Linked DNA regions of Homo sapiens: region 2 is linked to region 1. The links come from fine-mapping of genetic effects on gene expression. Tissue or cell type: whole blood. Region 1 holds a variant in brackets; the other region holds the start of a gene. All regions are shown on one strand. Distances are between the middles of the regions.

The links. PIP is the estimated chance that this variant, and not a neighbour inherited with it, causes the effect.
Region 2: S1PR3 starts here. The variant in region 1 is fine-mapped to the expression of S1PR3 in whole blood (INTERVAL, PIP 0.98).

Annotation. Positions count from the first base shown.
Region 1 is chr9:88,897,481-88,905,665 of GRCh38, forward strand. All of the region lies in intron 3 of LOC124902205 (a long non-coding RNA gene), which reads left to right. Among named protein-coding and RNA genes, the nearest start is that of S1PR3, 90 kb to the right of the region's middle. The variant A/AT (reference allele first, on the strand shown) is at 4,182.
Region 2 is chr9:88,986,672-88,994,856 of GRCh38, forward strand. S1PR3 (sphingosine-1-phosphate receptor 3) reads left to right here and starts at 4,797. Exons shown (of 2, transcript NM_005226.4): 1 at 4,797-5,024. RefSeq lists a silencer at 4,343-4,637.

The DNA.
Region 1 (8,185 bases):
TCTCTATTAAGAAATTAATGCAGCTTTATTACTCTCCTCCTGGGCAATTCCTTTACCTTCAGGCAACAAGAGACGCACCTGAGAAACATAAATGCTCACTTCCTGCAAGCATTGGACAGGTATGAGCTAAGAAATGGTGACCTTGATAGGGAATAAAATGAGTAGGTCCTCTTTGAAGAAATGCTGCATACTGAACCCAGAGTCCAAAAAAAGATGTTTCATAAAACAAATTAAGGGAACACAGCATCATGCCAATCATTAAAAAGACAAAGGCATTTTCCCATAGAAACTAGGAGTAAGAAATATTCTAGCAAATTCAGAAATTTAAAAGAGCATCCATCCCTGAACATGATTTCTGATTCACTGATAGTTGCCCATAAATATTATTTTATTTTCCTTTGCAAATTATCTTAAACATTGATATCTTTTTTTGATATCTTGATAGCTCTTGTTTGAGAAAACATATGAACTGTAATTGCATTAAGCCATAAATAGTGACAGACATTACAAAATAATTGTTTTAACCAAGAAGTGATGATGTTAGGTATTGGCTAAAAGGCGGGGGGTTCAGAAAATAACTTTCAAAACAGTTCAATTTTTTAAAAATACACATATATGGTCGTGTGAAAGAGAAAAAATATCAGTGGCTCCAGTCAGGGTGTTAATGAGAAGCTAGGTCCAACATAATTCAAAACAATGATCAGCCAAGCAAATTAAAGACTGCCTGACTCATCCTTCACAAGCAGATATCAATCACTGGGTGAGATCTCTGCTCCACGTGGGTGAGATCTCTGCTCCACGTGGCTGAAAAACATGGGTCAAAAAGAGTCATGTGCTGGTTAATCTGACATAGGGGACCACCCACAAATACTTTACATTTTGCTCTGGTATGTATAATGTAATTTTATGCAGCTTAATTTCTATTTTGTAATGAATAATATATTCTCATGGTTCAAAGCTTAAAAATAAAAAACAGTGAATGGAGAAGAATCTCCTGCTCCATCTGTGCTCAGCTGCAGTGCTTTTTCTCCCCAGAGGCAGGCTGTGTTATGTATTATGCATCTACCCAGCACTAGTGTGTGCACATCTGTGTGCACATATACATTTATATGTGGATATGCAAATATATACAAATGCTCCTTGACTTACAATGGAGTTATGTCCCAATAAACCCATCATAAGTTGAAAATCTCCTACGTCAAAAATGCACTTAATACACCTAACCTAATGATAATCATAGCTTGGACTAGCCTACCTTAAACATGCTCAGAACACTTCCCTTAGCCTGCAGTTGGGCCAAGTTGTCTAACACAAAGCCTATTTCACAATACAGTGTTGACTGTCTCTTGCAATTGATTGAATATTGTATGGAAAGCGAAAAGCAGAATGATTGTATGGATACTCCAAGTACAATTTCTACTGAACGCATATATTGTTTTCACACCACCCAAAAGTCAAAACTAAGTTGAACCATTGTAAATTGGGGACTGTCTGTACATGCTCTTCCACCTCTCACTTTTTCACACAAGCAGTAGCCTACTTTACCAACTATTCCGGACTTTGCTTTTTTCACTTAATATACCCCCTAGATTGTTTCTAATCACAAGTGAAGCAGTTCCTCATTATTTTTAAAAGTCAAATAGAATTCCATTAATAGTATATGCCATATCCATTAATTAATGTTTCAACAGATCCTTTGCTATTAAACACTACAATGCAGTGTGTAATCTTGACTTAACTCACTTCATAGTTGTAATTTTTTATTTGCATATAGTCAGTGTTATTGTTTTGCATTTTACATTTAGGTCTGTGATACATCTGAGGGTTTCTTTTTCTGTAAAAGTATACGATCTATGTCTAGAATCCTCTTATTTTTTGCATGTGGATGTCTAATTATTCTATGACCATTTGTTGAAAACCATATCCTTTTCCCATTGAATTATCTTGTTCTTTTGTCAAATATCAGTTGTCTATATTTGTGTGGGTCCATTTCTGAACTTTCTATTCTGTTCCACTGATCTTTCACCAATGCCACACTGTCTTGACTGTTATAGTTTTATGTGAAGATGGATAGTATTAGTCCTCTATTTTTTTTTCTTTAATATTGTGTTTGCTATTCTAGGTATATTGTCTCTCCAGTAAAACTTGGCAATAAGTTTGTTGATATTCACAAAGTAAATGCTGAGATTTTGATTGGGATTGCATTGAATCTATAGATAAAATTGATAAGAAGGGACATCTTGACAGTATTGAGCTTCCCTATCTATGAACATGGAGTACCTCTCCATTTGTTTAGTTTTTTGATTCCTTTCACCACAGTTTTGTAGTTTCTCTTATAAAGATCAGTGCACATTTTGTTAGATTTATACCTGAATATTTCATATTTTGAGCTAATGTAAATGGTATTAAAGTTTTTATTTCATATTCCAATTGTAATTGCTCATGTATGGGAAAACAATTGGCTTTGTATATAAATCTTGTATCCTGAAAGCTAGCTACAATCACATGTTAGTTTCAGGAGATTTTTGTCAGTTGTATAGGATTTTATACATAGACAATCATGTCATCTACAAACAAAAATCGTTTTATTTCTTGCTTCTTCCAATCTGTGTACCTTTTATTTACCAAATATCCTTTTTTTTTGTCTTAGTGCATTAGCTAAGACTTCCAGTATTATGCTGCATAGGAGTGATGAGAGGGGACATCATTGTCATTCCTGATTTTAGCAGGAAAGCTTCTAGTTTGTCAAGAATAATGCTAGCTGTGGGTTCTATTTTATTTTGCTAATATTCTTTATTAAGTTTAAGAAGTTCCTCACTATCCCTAATTTGCTGAGAATTTTTATCATAAATGGGTGTCAGATTTTGTCAAATACTTTCTCTACATCTATTGATATGATCATGTGATTTCTCTTCTTTAGCTGGTGGATGTAATGGATTGCACTAATTGATTTTTAAATATTGATCCAGACTTATATACCTGGAATAAATCCAACTTGATTATGTTATACGATTCTTTTTATACATTGTTGGGTTCGATTTTCTAACATTTTATTGAGAATTTTTGCATCTATTTCATGAGAGATATTGGTCTGTAGTTTATTTTTTCTTGTAATGTCATTATCTGGTTTTGATATTTGGATAATGCTAGTCTCATAGAATGAATTAGAAACTATTCTCTCTATTTCTATCTTCTGGGAAAGATTGTAGAGAATCAGTATTATTTTTTACCTAACTATTTTACAAAATTCACCAGTAAACTCATCCAAGTCTGGTACTTTATGTCTTGAAAATTATTAATTATTGATTTAATTTCTTGAATTGATATAGATCTACTTAGATAACATATTTCTTTTTTTGTGGGTTTTGGAAGTGTCTTAGTGGCACTTAGGTGCCAGCAGGTTTGGTGTCTGGGGGGGGCTGTTCTCTACTTCCAAGATGATGCCTTGCACACCATATATTCCAGACTGAAGGAACACTGTGTTCTTACATGACAGAAGGCAGAAGAGCAAAAAGAGACAAACTTCCTCCTCCAAGCCCTTCTATGAGGGCACCTAATCCCATCCACAAGAGGTGACCTCTCATGGCCTAATCATTTCTTAAGGGCCCACCTCCTAATACTATCACATTGACAGCACCTGAATTTTGGAGGAGACATATTAGAACAATAGCAGGAAGATTATCCCTTTCAAGGAATTGGCCAAATAGGATGGAATTGGTCCATCAACTAGGTCATCAAATTTGTGAGTATAGTTTATAATATTCTTTTAATATCCTTTAACATCCATGGGATCAGTAGTGATAACCCCTCTTTCATTTGTGGTATGAGTTGCTTGTATCTGCTCTCTTTTTTAATTGGTTAGCCTGGCTCGAGCTTTATCAATTTTATTGATCTTTTCAAAGAATGAGTTTATGGTTTCATTAATTTTTCACTTGACTTCCTGTTTTGAATTTTTTTAATTTCATCGATTTCTGCTTTTATTTTCTACTTTTCTTCAGCTTTCTTTGGAGTTAACCTGCTCTGCTTTTTCTAATTTTCTAAGGCAAAAGCACTGATTATTTTTAAAAATTTTTCTCCCTTTCCATTATATGGATTAAATGCCATGAATTTCCTTCGAAACATTGCTTTTGCTGCTTCCCACAAGTTTTTGTTTGTTTGTGTTTGTTTGTTTGTTTGTTTTT[A/AT]TTTTTTTTTTGATGAAGTCTCGCTCTTTCGCCCTAGCTGGAGTGCAGTGGCTGGATCTTGGTTCACTATAATCTCCGCCTCCCAGGTTCAAGAGATTCTCCTGCCTCAGCCTTCCAAGTAACTGGGATTGCAGGTACGCCCCACCATGCCTGGCTAATTTTTGTATTTTTAGTAGAGAGGGGGTTTCGCTATGTTCGCCATGTTGGTCTCGAACTCCTGGCCTCAGGTGATCTGCCCAACTCGGCCTCCCAAAGTGCTGGGATTACAGGTGTGAGCCACTGCACCTGGCACACAAGTTTTAATTAAGTTGTATTTTCATTTTCATTTAATTAAAAACATTAAAATTTCTCTTCAGATTTTTTTTCTTGGACCCACATGTTATTTAAAACTGTGTTGTTTAATTTCTAAGTATTTTAGGATTTTCCATCTATTTTCTGTTATTAAATTCTACTTTTATTTCATTGTAGTGTGAGAGCAATACATTTTATGATTTTTATTCTTTATATTTGTTATGATGTATTAATATTTTATAGCCCATAATCTGGTTTATCTTGGTGAATGTTCTATGTGAGCTTGAGAAGAATTATATTCTGCTGTTGTTAGATAAGATATTCTATAAAAGTGTATTGAGCTGGGTGCAGTGGTTCATACCTATAATCCCAGCACTTTGGGAGGCCGAAGCAGGCACACCGCTTGAGGACAGGAGTTCGAGACCAGCCCGGCCAACATGGCGAAACCCCGTCTCTACTAAAAATACAAAAATTAGCCAGGCATGGTGGCACACACCTGCAATCCCAGCTACTCAGGAGGCTGAGGCACGAGAATCACTTGAACCTGGGAGGCGGAGGTTGTAGTGAGCCAAGACTGCACCACTGCACTCAGCCTGGGTGACAAAGAGTGAGACTCTGTCTCAAAAAAAAAAAAAAAAGAGTTTATTGTATCCTGCTGACTAATGGTGCTGTTCACTATATCCTTACTGATTTTCTGCTTGCTGGATCTGGTAGTTACTGATAGGGGGATGTTGAATTCTTCACCTTTAATAGTTGATTTGTCTACTTCTCCTTGCAACTTTATCATTTTTTTGTTCATATATTTTGACACTCTGTTGTTAGAGGTGTACTCTTTAAGAATTATTATGTCTTCTTAGAAAAGTGATCCCTTTATTATTATTTAAAACCTTTTTATCCTTAGTAACTTTCCTTGTTCTGAAACCTACTTTGTCTGAAATTAATGTATCTACTCTAGCTTTCTTTTGATTACTATTAGTGTTGTGTATCTTTCTCCATCTCATTACTCTTCTTCTATATGTGTCTTTATTTTTAAAGTGGATGTCTTGTAGATCAGTGGTCCTTAACCTTTTTGGCACCAGGGACCAGTTTTGTGGAACACAATTTTTCCATGGACTTGGGGTGGGGGATAGTTTTGGGCTGAAATTGTTCCACCTCAGATAATCAGGCATTAGAATCTCATAAGGAGCATGCAATCTAGATCACCTGCATGTGCAGTTCACAATAGGGTTCTCACTCCTATGAGAATCTGATGCCTCCATTGATATGACAGGAGGTGGAGCTCAGGTAGTAATGCTCATTTGCCCGCCGCTCACCTCCTGCTGTGTAGCCGTTTCTGACAGGCCATAGCCAGGGGGTTGGGGATGATATGGTTCAGTCCTGTTTTTTATCCACTCAGTCTCTGTTTTTTAATTGGTGTATTTAGATCAGTGACATTTAACTATTGATATAGTTGGATTTATATCTACCGTATTTGTTATTGTTTTCTATTTGTTGCCTTTGTTCTTTGTTTCTATTTTCACCTTCCACTGTTTTTCTGCCTTCTGTAGTTTTATTTTATATGATTCCATTTTCTCTCCTTTCTTTGCATATAAATTACACTTTTTACCTATTTTAGCCGTTGCTGTAGAGCTTACAATATACATTTACAACTACTCTATGTCCATTTTTAGATAACGCTATACTGCTTCACGGGTAACGCGAGTACCTTTTAAGAGCATATTCCCAACCCTTCCCTCTTATCTCTTATATCATTGCTGTTATTCATTTTACTTATCTACAAGCTAAAATCAGCAAACACATTGTTGCTCTTATTTTGAACAAACTGTTATCTGTTAGATCCATTAAGAATAAGAAAAATGCACTTTGGGAGGCCTAGGCGGGGGGATCATGAGGTCAGGAGATCGAGACCATCCTGGCTAACATGGTGAAATGCCATCTCTACTAGAAATACAAAAAAATTAGCCAGGTGTGGTGGCAGGTGCCTGTAGTCCCAGCTACTTGGGAGGCTGAGGCAGGAGAATGGCGTGAACCCGGCAGGTGGAGCTTTCAGTGAGCCGAGATCACGCCACTGCACTCCAGCCTGGGTGACAGAGCAAGACTCCGCTCAAAAAAAAAAAAAAAAAAGAAAATAATAAGAAAAACAAAAGATCTTAGTTTTACCTTTATTTATGCATTCTCTAACATGCTTCCTGTTACATAGATCTAAGTTCCTGACCTATATCACTTTCCTTCTCCCTGAATAACTTCTTTAACATTTCTTGCAAGGTAGGTCTACTGCTGACAAATTCCCTTGATTCTTTATTGTCTGAGAAAGTCTATTTCTCCTTCACTTTTGGAGGATAATTTCACAGAATTCTGGGTTGATAAGTTTTATTCTTCCAACACTTTAAATATTTCACTCCACTTTCTTCTTGCTTGCCTGGTGTCTCAGGAGAAGTTGGACTTAATTCTTATCATTACTCCTCTATAGATGAGATGGTTTGCTCTGCCCCTGGCTCCTTTCAAGACTTTCTTTGTACTTATTTTCTGCAGTTTGGATATAATATGCCTAGGAGTAGATATTTTGGCATTTTTCATTCTTGATATTCTCCAAGCTTCTGGAATCCGTAGTTTCATGTCTGTCTTAATTTTGGGAAATTCTTATTCTTTATTGCTTCAATAATTCTTCTGTTCCTTTCTCTCTTCTTCTGGTGTTCCCATTATTCATATGTTACATCTTTTGTAACTGTCCCACAGTTTCTGGATATTCTGCTCCATTTTCTGAGTCTCTTCTCTTTGCTTTTCAGTTTGTGAAGTTTCTATTGACATATCCTGAAGCTCAGAGATTCTTTCTTCAGCCATGTCTAGACTACTAATGAGACCATCAAAAGCAGTCTTCATTTCTTTATAGTGTTTTTGATCTCTAGTATTTCTTTTTAATTCTTTCTTAGAATTTTCATCTCTCTGTTTACATTACCCATCTATTCTTGCATTTTGCTTACTTTTTCCATTAAAGCTATCATAATATATATCATAGTTCTTTTAACCCTTTTTCCATTTGCCCCAAGAATACTTGCTGGTGGCGCTTGCGACTGCAATGTTTACCCTGAGATGACTTTGCCATGAAATATTATTATTTTCACATTGCTCTAGTATGTCAACTTTGGAAATAAAAGACATCATTCCATTTATAGCATTGTTTTTAGTAGTGGCATTTCCATTTACAAAATATAGTAATTCTCAATCGCTGAAAATGTCAAATCCTAGAAAGCAGCAATCCTACTTGTGATGTTAACATCATTCTCAAGTAGTTGTTGCCTGAAGATTCATTTGATGAATCTGATTTTTCTGAAATAGATGATTCTGATGATTCAGATGATTCTGATGTTAATTCTGTTTAGAAATAATTCCATGAAAAGTTTTTATATTTTATTTTCACAGTGAAAATCAGTCAGATTTGCTTCAGCTTCAAAGAGTGTGTTTATGTAAAAATTAAGTGAGTGCTGGTAGCGAGCTGCCCTTTTTTTTTTTTTCTAAATGGGAAAAGGGTTAAATTCTGGGTCTGATATTTAACCTCTCTACTACATCTGAGTCTGGTTCTGATGCTTGCCTTGTCTCTTCATACTCTATGTGTGGGCATGTATGTGATTTGGGAGTTTGTTTATTTATTTTTGACTTTTAGTATGACTTGTACTATTCCACTGAAAGCCAGACATAATGTACTGGGTGAAAAC
Region 2 (8,185 bases), 89 kb after region 1:
TAGCCAGGCACAGTGGTGGGCGCCTGTAATCCCAGCTACTCAGGAGGCTGAGGCAGGAGAATTGCTTGAACCCAGGAGGCGGAGGTTGCAGTGAGCTGAGATTACACCATTGCACTCCAGCCTGGGCAACAGAGCAAGCCTCCGTCTTAAAAAAAAAAAAAAGGAACAATTCCTGAAGCTTCTGATGATTTCTGGCTGACCATGAGGTTGGAAGTGGGAACACATTAAGGGCTTAATGATGGGACACAGTGATGTAACCACTGTGGAGCCACAATTGAAGTGCTGAGATTCAGCATTGGAAGACATCTCTGTCACCAAATGAACACGCCTCCCTAAAGAGCTCTGGCAGTGAGTCAAAGGCTTCATTTGGGTCAAGACAGAGTTATTATACAAAAAGCCAAGTTTCATTCTACAAATCCACATCGGGGTCAATATTTTAAAGTGATTTCCCCCAAGTTCTGTGTAGAGCAAGCTGACAGAGAAGAAATGGCTCTGAGATATCTGGCAAGGTGCAGATGGACTGACCACAAGCCGCTTATCCCCACTGTAGCTCCGGGCTCCCTTCTGCCACAGTGGCCATATCTGTGAGGTTCTGCCCTTTCCCTGGGGCCACTGCATCAGTCAGGGCTCTCCAGAGAAACGGAATCCACAGGAGGTATACCTATAGCATACACAAAGGCTTTATTATAAGGAATTGGCCCATGCAATTATGGAAGCTGACACATCCAATGTCTATAGGTCCAAGGTCCCAGTTCCAGTCCTAAGAGGATTCTCCTAGTTAGAGACTTCTCTCTAACTAGGGAGAGTGTTGGCTTTTTGTCTTCAATAACAGTCTACTCAGGCCCTCAACTAATTGGGTGAGGCTCACCCACACTAGGAAGGGCCATCTGCTCTCCTCAGTCTACTGACTCACTTGTCAATCTCATCCAGAAACCCCCTCACAGACACATTCAGAATAATGTTTGACCACATATCTGGGCACCCCATGCCCCAGTCAAGTTCACACATACAATTAACCATCATAACTATCTGTTAGACCCCACCTTGCAGGGGGCAGTCCTCCTCTGGAAACCTTCAGGACTTGAAGTGTCAAGCTCATGTGTGCAAACTGTGACCAACACACATTTTCCTGAGAAGAGGCCTCAGACAAACAAAAAAATATCATGCATGCACATTTACTCAGATAATGACTGTCTGTTGCAGCCTTTACGCTAAACAGAGCTAAGAGTAGAGATAGTGCAGATTAACTCAGACCCAGAAACTTGGGGAGGCACCCTGGGATCCTGGAAGCAGATGCTGGGAGGGCAGAGGGGACCGAGAAAGGAGGTGCATTTACTCAGCTCTTCTGAGACAATTCTGCTCTCCTGCGGTGCACTCGTTCTGCTGGAGAAAGGGCTCACTTTGAGTTTGAATCTTAAAACTGCATGTCCTTTAACCACACTGTACCTGCTCACCAGGCTGTGGACACTAAATTGTTGGGAAAGTGAATATATTTCATTTTTTTAATTAAAAAAGCATGTAAGGTTATATTACATAATTGTGATATATAATACATTTATTCAAATCATATTTAAGTTTGGGGCCACATGATTTTCAAAAGTATACAGATATAACTCATAGTATCTTTCAATTTTATTCCCATAAGCCTAGATTTGATTTAAAGTCTAAGCGCAAAGGTAGAGAAATTTTTTAGTTGTTTAGTACCTGCCATTTTATTTTTCTCCAACTTTTTATTATGGAAAAAGTTCAAAGATACAAAGAAGGAGAACAGATTGTACAACCCCTTCCCTAAATCCACCACGTAGAACCAATAATCACCAACCTTTTGTCATATCAGCTTATGTGCACGTACTGTGCTGAACAATTTAAAATAAGTTTTAGACATGAAGACATTTTACCCTTTAATACTTCAGCAGCACCTCCTAAAATTAAAGCCATTCTCCTAAACAAACATTATGCCATTATCACACCTAAAAACATTAACAATAATTCTATACTATCAGTCAATATCCCCTCCAATTTGTAATTTCCTCCAAAATGTTTTTGTGTGCGTGTGTGTGTGCTGATTTGTCCAGCTGGGAGTCAATCCGGATTTGTACTTATTGTTATACTTCTTCTTTTCAGCTGTTCTTATACCAGAAGAATCCTTCACCCCTTTTTCTTGACATTGATTTTTTTTGGAAGAGCTCAGGACTGCAGAATGCCCACACTCTGGTAGTCCAGTTTTTCCCATGGTGTCATTTAACTCATGGCTCAAACTCTTCCATTTCCTGTAAACTTGCAGTAAAGTCTAGAGGCTTTGCAATTGATTCAATTGAAGCATCTTTGGCAAGCACACAGCAACAATGATGTTGTGTGTTTCTTTTGCATCACATAATGCCAGGTTGAGCCAGTATTAGTGACACTGAGTTTGATCTTCCTGTAAGGTACAGCCAGATGTCTCCATAAAAAAATGGAAAATGGAAAACCTTTTTCTTTTTTTTTTCCAATTAGCACCCGTTCGCCTGCACACTTTCACCTAAGGGTTTGACACCCACTAGTGCACACTGCCTGATTTAATTATTTCATTAAGGGTTACAGAATGGGGATTTCCTCATTCTCGCATTTCTACGTTTATGAGCTGGCATTCTTCTGTTAAACTGCTTTCACTTGTGAAACAGGATGCAGAGGAGGAGACTTATTCAACAGAATTGTAGGGAGGGCTGTTTCTCTCAAAAGGAGTGGTGAGAGAAGATGGTCTCTACCGGGGCATGGAGGGCTCCTTGTCAGAGTCTAGTGTCTGAGCTTTAAGGCCCAGGAAGAGGGCAGCAGATGGGGGTGGGGCAGTGGGTGAGTGAGAGGCCCGTGTGTGGGGAGACCCACTGAGGACAGGGATCTTTAGGCAAACGGAGCCTCACTGAAAGAGGAATTTCAGTGATGCCATGGGTCAGATCCTGGGTCTCTCTTAGGGAAACCTGCCATAAAGCATGAGAGCCACATTACTCCTCAGGGCTTCTGGGCTCCGATTCCGCAGACTAGTTTTGGAGGCATCACCACGCCTCAAGGTTGCTCTGTTATATCAGGGTAACTGACTTTCTCTAGGAACGGAGACTTGGGTGCCCCTTAAAACAACCCTCAGCCAGTATCCTAGCAGTAAATTTTTCATCACGGGAAGCAACTAATTGAACAGAGGTGTGATGAACCTACTGACCACTTTGGTAATATAGACACAGTGGCCACAGTATGCTGTATTGTTATCCTGGTTGTGACCAATGCCAAAGGAGCATGTTTCCTTCTTTTCTTGACTTGATGCTGTAGGAGTCCAACAAAGGGAAGCACATTCAGGCCCACATGAAACTTGGGACAGAAGTGGCTTCTCAGAGCCGTGCACCAGGCACTTTGAACAAGTTGGAAGGCTACAGTGCCGGAAGACTCCACAGTAGCACAGGCGAAGTGGCTTAGGCGAAAACGCTGGGAAGTACCCCAGCTCCCGGGGGCCAGAGCCTCTAGGGCTGGCAGCCTCAGCAGGCAGAGTCACTTGCCTCCTTCAGCTCAATTGCTGAGGGCTTGCGTTTCTCTGCAGGGAACAGGAGTGCCGCCGACTTCCACTCTTGGTGCCCTTCACCGCTCAAACTGCACCCCAAATAAGCGTATGCACCCTGCTCCAAGAGAAGGATGCGCTGGGCTGATCCTCTGGAGGCAAGAGGGCAAAAGACAGAAAGTAACGAGCGGCCTTTGCACAAACTCAACTCTCTGCAGCGGCCCCTGCGGCCCAATCCTGCCGGCCCAGGAATGCACGGTCGGATAACAGGCCTCTCCTTGCTTTTTCGTCTTCTTCCTCCCGCTTCTCTCCTCTCTCCTTTTCCTCCTCCTCCTTTTTCTTTAATTTTCTCCTTTCTCCCCAAGCTTCTACAGTTGTTTCTGTGTTCGCTCAATCATGGCCTTTGGCATTGATTGAAAATTTGGCAGTTCCTTCTCTCGGAATTCTGTTTGAAGCCTTCATATGGATTTATTATTATTATTATTATTTTTGCCACACAAAAGGGGCAAATCCGCGTGAGGAAGGGGGTCGCATGGGGGTCGGCTGAGATCTGCTGGCTGCCGGTCTAGGAGGGGCGCTGCTCTGTGCCGGAGTGGGCTCTGGTGCACCAGCAGAGGCTGGGGGAGAGTGCTGCCCCCGCCTGGAGCCCAAGTCTCTGCGTGCCTGGGGGTAGAGCGCGGAGAGGGACCAGGCAGGCGCCGGAGGGGACCCGCGCGGAAAAGGAAGAAGCCCAAACAAAAACGCTGTCCGGCGCCAGGCGCCCACCTGCAAGCCCAAGCCGGTGCTCGGCCAGTTACAAAAGAAATGGTCAGGATCTGGACAACGATAATGATAGTATTAATCCTCCTATTAAGAATCGGCCCAAACAAACCCTCGCTGTCAGGGCGACAGGCGCCCGCCCAAGCCCAGACCTCGGACCTGGTTCCAAGCCTGTTCCCGCTGGGTCTCTGGGCGCCCGGTTTCTGCACCTGGAGCTCGCCCGATGAGGACAAGGTCTGGAGGCCGGCCTGGGAACAGGGGCCGAAGGGCGAGCCGGACCCTAGGGGATTGGTAGGGTCGGGGAGAAGGGGTCCAGGCTAGGGGCGGGCGGGGCGCACGGAGACCAGGCGGCTTGAGCGGGAGGTGGGGAGCTGGAGGAGTGCCGGGTTCGCGGGCGGGGGACGGGGAGAGGGGGGCGGGGAGAGGGGCGGGAGTCGGGGGCGGCGAGGGGAGGGGCGGAGCGCGGGTCCCGCCCCGGCGGGCCGCTGGAAAAGTTTAGTCTCTGACTCGCTCGGGCAGAGGCCGAGGAAGCCGGTTCCGGGGACGGGCAACAGGGACTCAGGGACCAGAAGGCGGCTGCAGGACGCGACCGAGCAGGACCCCAGGCCCGGGAACGACGTCGCGAGCGCTGAGACTGCCGGGCCTCCCAGCCCATCTGGCATTCGAGCGCAGGACCGGGCGCCCCGGCACCGCCGCGCGCCACCCGCTAGGATGCCGGTGGCCCCAGCGCCCTCAGCCGACGGAGGTGAGAGGCGGGCCCGGGCGGGGCGCGGAACCAGGGTGGGGGGCTGGGGGCCGAAGGACCCACCTTTCCAACAAAATCCCCACCGATCCCGGGCGCGACGGGGACTTGGGCGCGCCACGGCGGCCGGAGCGCTCCACATCAGCACCCCTCCCCCAGAGCCGCTGCAGGAACAGGGAGGAGGCCTTTTCCACCGCACCCGGAGCGTTTACAACGGGCTGGAGCTGAATACCTGGATGAAAGTGGAGAGGCTGTTCGTGGAGAAGTTCCATCAGTCGTTTTCCTTGGACAATTAACAAGTTAGGCTTCCACAGTGCCAGGGCCTGGGGATGCTGGACGTGGGAGAGGGTTGTGGTCGTTAGCCTGGGAAAATCATTCTTTTAAACAATATTCGCCGGAAAATTAGTTTTTTCCTAACATTTCTCAAACAAGGCAATTAGGGCCGTCAGAATCGGTGCTGGAAGACGAAGTCCCCACAGTGCAATAATGAGGTTCCCACGGAAAATCAGTACGTTGTGTTCGTAACTGAGATAACAGCTAGAGAAGGGGCTTTGGGCTTTTTGAGTCTCCCAATAGTCAGTCTCTCTCTCTCTCTCTCTCTCTCTCTTCCTCTGACTTTCTGGCTTTGGACACTCCCAATGGTATATTTCTTTGTGGTGTTTTTATATTTGGATATAAGAGAGGAACTTCTTGTTGGATTTTTAAGGGAACACACTTCGTTTTGACCCTTCCAATAAGGAAAGGGGAGCTACAGGAACAGAGAGCTCTTTAGAAGGTTACTTTTAAATGGAGGCCCCCCCATTCATGGTACCCACTCCCACTTGGACCTCTGAGACCTCCAGAATTAGGCATCATTCTAAAATCTGGACATTAGAAGTCACAGACTTTGTATATAACCACATATTCATAATTTATCTTTTCAATGTTTTTTATTCATAGATGAAAATCTTGCAGGCATAGTTAAGAAAAATATAATTCCTAGAAAGTACAAGGGAAGGATTATGCTCTGCAGATACATGACTAACAAGGATAGCTGGCCATGCCCAGGGCTGGTGTTGGTTGAGGAGGTGGTGATGGTGCGGGGCATGTGTGTGTGTGTGTGTGTGTGCGCTTGAGGAGTTGTGGAAGTGTTCATATCTGTAAAGTATTATTTCATGGATGCAGACCTTAATGCTAGGTTGAATAACTTTGTTGCCATAGAAGAAGAACCGCACGTCAGGCTTTTTTCATTAGCAAACCAGTAAGCACTCACTTTGGGCCTCTGAAATCACTTCCATCACCTAACACCAGAGATACAAACTGAAGCTAGCCCTTAAGAGCCTCCCCCTAAGATTTAGAGAGAATGATTTCTCAACCAGTTTTCATCTTTGAAAGTGCCATTTCTCCCTTTATCATTGTGATTTTTATTCAAATGCATGAGTCTCTGATTTTCTACCATATACAAAGGGTAGAGACTACAGTTTCCTATAGAAGAAACTTCACATAGTGGCCGAAGGATCTTATTTCTCAAAATTCAGGAACTGGTTTCCTCTTTCTGGAAATTATGACATTAACTTGATTTCATGGTATCTCTTTCATCTTCCTCAATGCCTGTGCTGTATGTATATTTTTATTATATACTGTAGGTATATTTTTATTACCAAAAAAAGGAGAATTTGAGCATGCCACAATCTTGAAAAATCTGAGGTTGCCCTGCTGTAGAACCCTTTAACTGCCAGGACTTTGTACTGTTTCCCAAGTGTTACCAGAGCCAGGCCGCCAGCCTTATGCAGTCTGTTTACCTTAGCTGGAACCAGGGTGCTGTGCTGTGGGTTCTATGAAACTTTCTGTTTCTTCATATTTGGCTTTGTAATTCCTTTCTTATCAGTTTTGGAGGCATTTCCTATTATTCCTCTGCCATATGTTTTCTGCCAAATTAATTGCCTTAAGATTTTCCTTAAGCTTTTGGAAATGTATAATGTTTGAGAAAAAAGAAAAAGAATAGACTGAGTGGAATCGTATCTAGTTTCAGTTAATAACATGTTTCAGTTGATGTTACTGTTATAGCTACTGGGCATAAAGTCTCCTTCCCTTTTTTGAATCCTATTTTTGAGGCATTGAAGCTGTGTCTGTAAGAGACAATAGGCCAGTTGGGTTAAATCAGTGACGAGATTGTCCAGTGCAGATTGGTGCCCAGTGAGTGGATCTTCACTGCTCACAGGCCGGACTGGGGTCAGCTCACACAGCGAGGTGACGGTCCGCTCCTCAAGCAGTGGATGGTGCTCTTCGGCCTTGCAGATGCCGCTCCATTTTCCTGGCTTCAAAATTTTCCAGATATTTCAGTGCCCCCAGAATGACATGCTAACATTCTGCTGGCATGGGAGCATGAGGCAGTTTGTCTCTAAAACATGCCAGAGAATCTCTTGTCACTACCTAGGCAAAGAACCAGTGGCAAGGTGGCAGCCTCCCAAAGAGCTCATCCCTAATGTGACATCCTGGAATCAGATGGCACGGACACCGGCCCAGCCCCTTCCCAGCTCTGTGACTAAGGACAAGTGACACCCCCCCTCCCCCAGCCTCGGTCTCCTCCTGTGTACATTCAGAAGGCAGATGCTGCCATGAGGCCATGTGTGCTATGTCCATGGTGCAAGGTGGCACGCATGCCGAGTCACCAGGTGAGACTGCCGCTTTGGGAAGGGATAGGAAGGATCTCCGGTAGCCTTCGTGGGCAGGATGCCTCTTATTTGAATGTGCCTTTAGCCACCTCACAGAGCCTATTTCCACATCCCTGTGGATTCATCCCTGTGGAAATCTTGAGAATCATTTATCCTATGCTGTCATGAAGCAGCAGCAGAATGGAGAAGGTTTAAAAAGACTCATGGACAGGCAAAGCGGTCAAACACCTCCTGGCTCAGACGCACTTGCCTTCCCACACACAAGTCTGGAAGCTCAGGATGGTGTTCACGGAGGCAGATGCTCGGGGCCGGGGCCTGAGTTTCCTGGGGCACAGCCTCCATATCTGGGGTTCCCTGGACTATGCCCAGATAGCTCATAATGTCCCAGCCTTATTTGTGATGGAGAAGGACTTGGGGAAAAGCCACCGGGAAGCAGTAAGTCTAACCAGGGAAGTGCACTGACTTGCATGCTTTGAAGAAGAGAAGGGAGAAAAGATACAAAACCCTCAC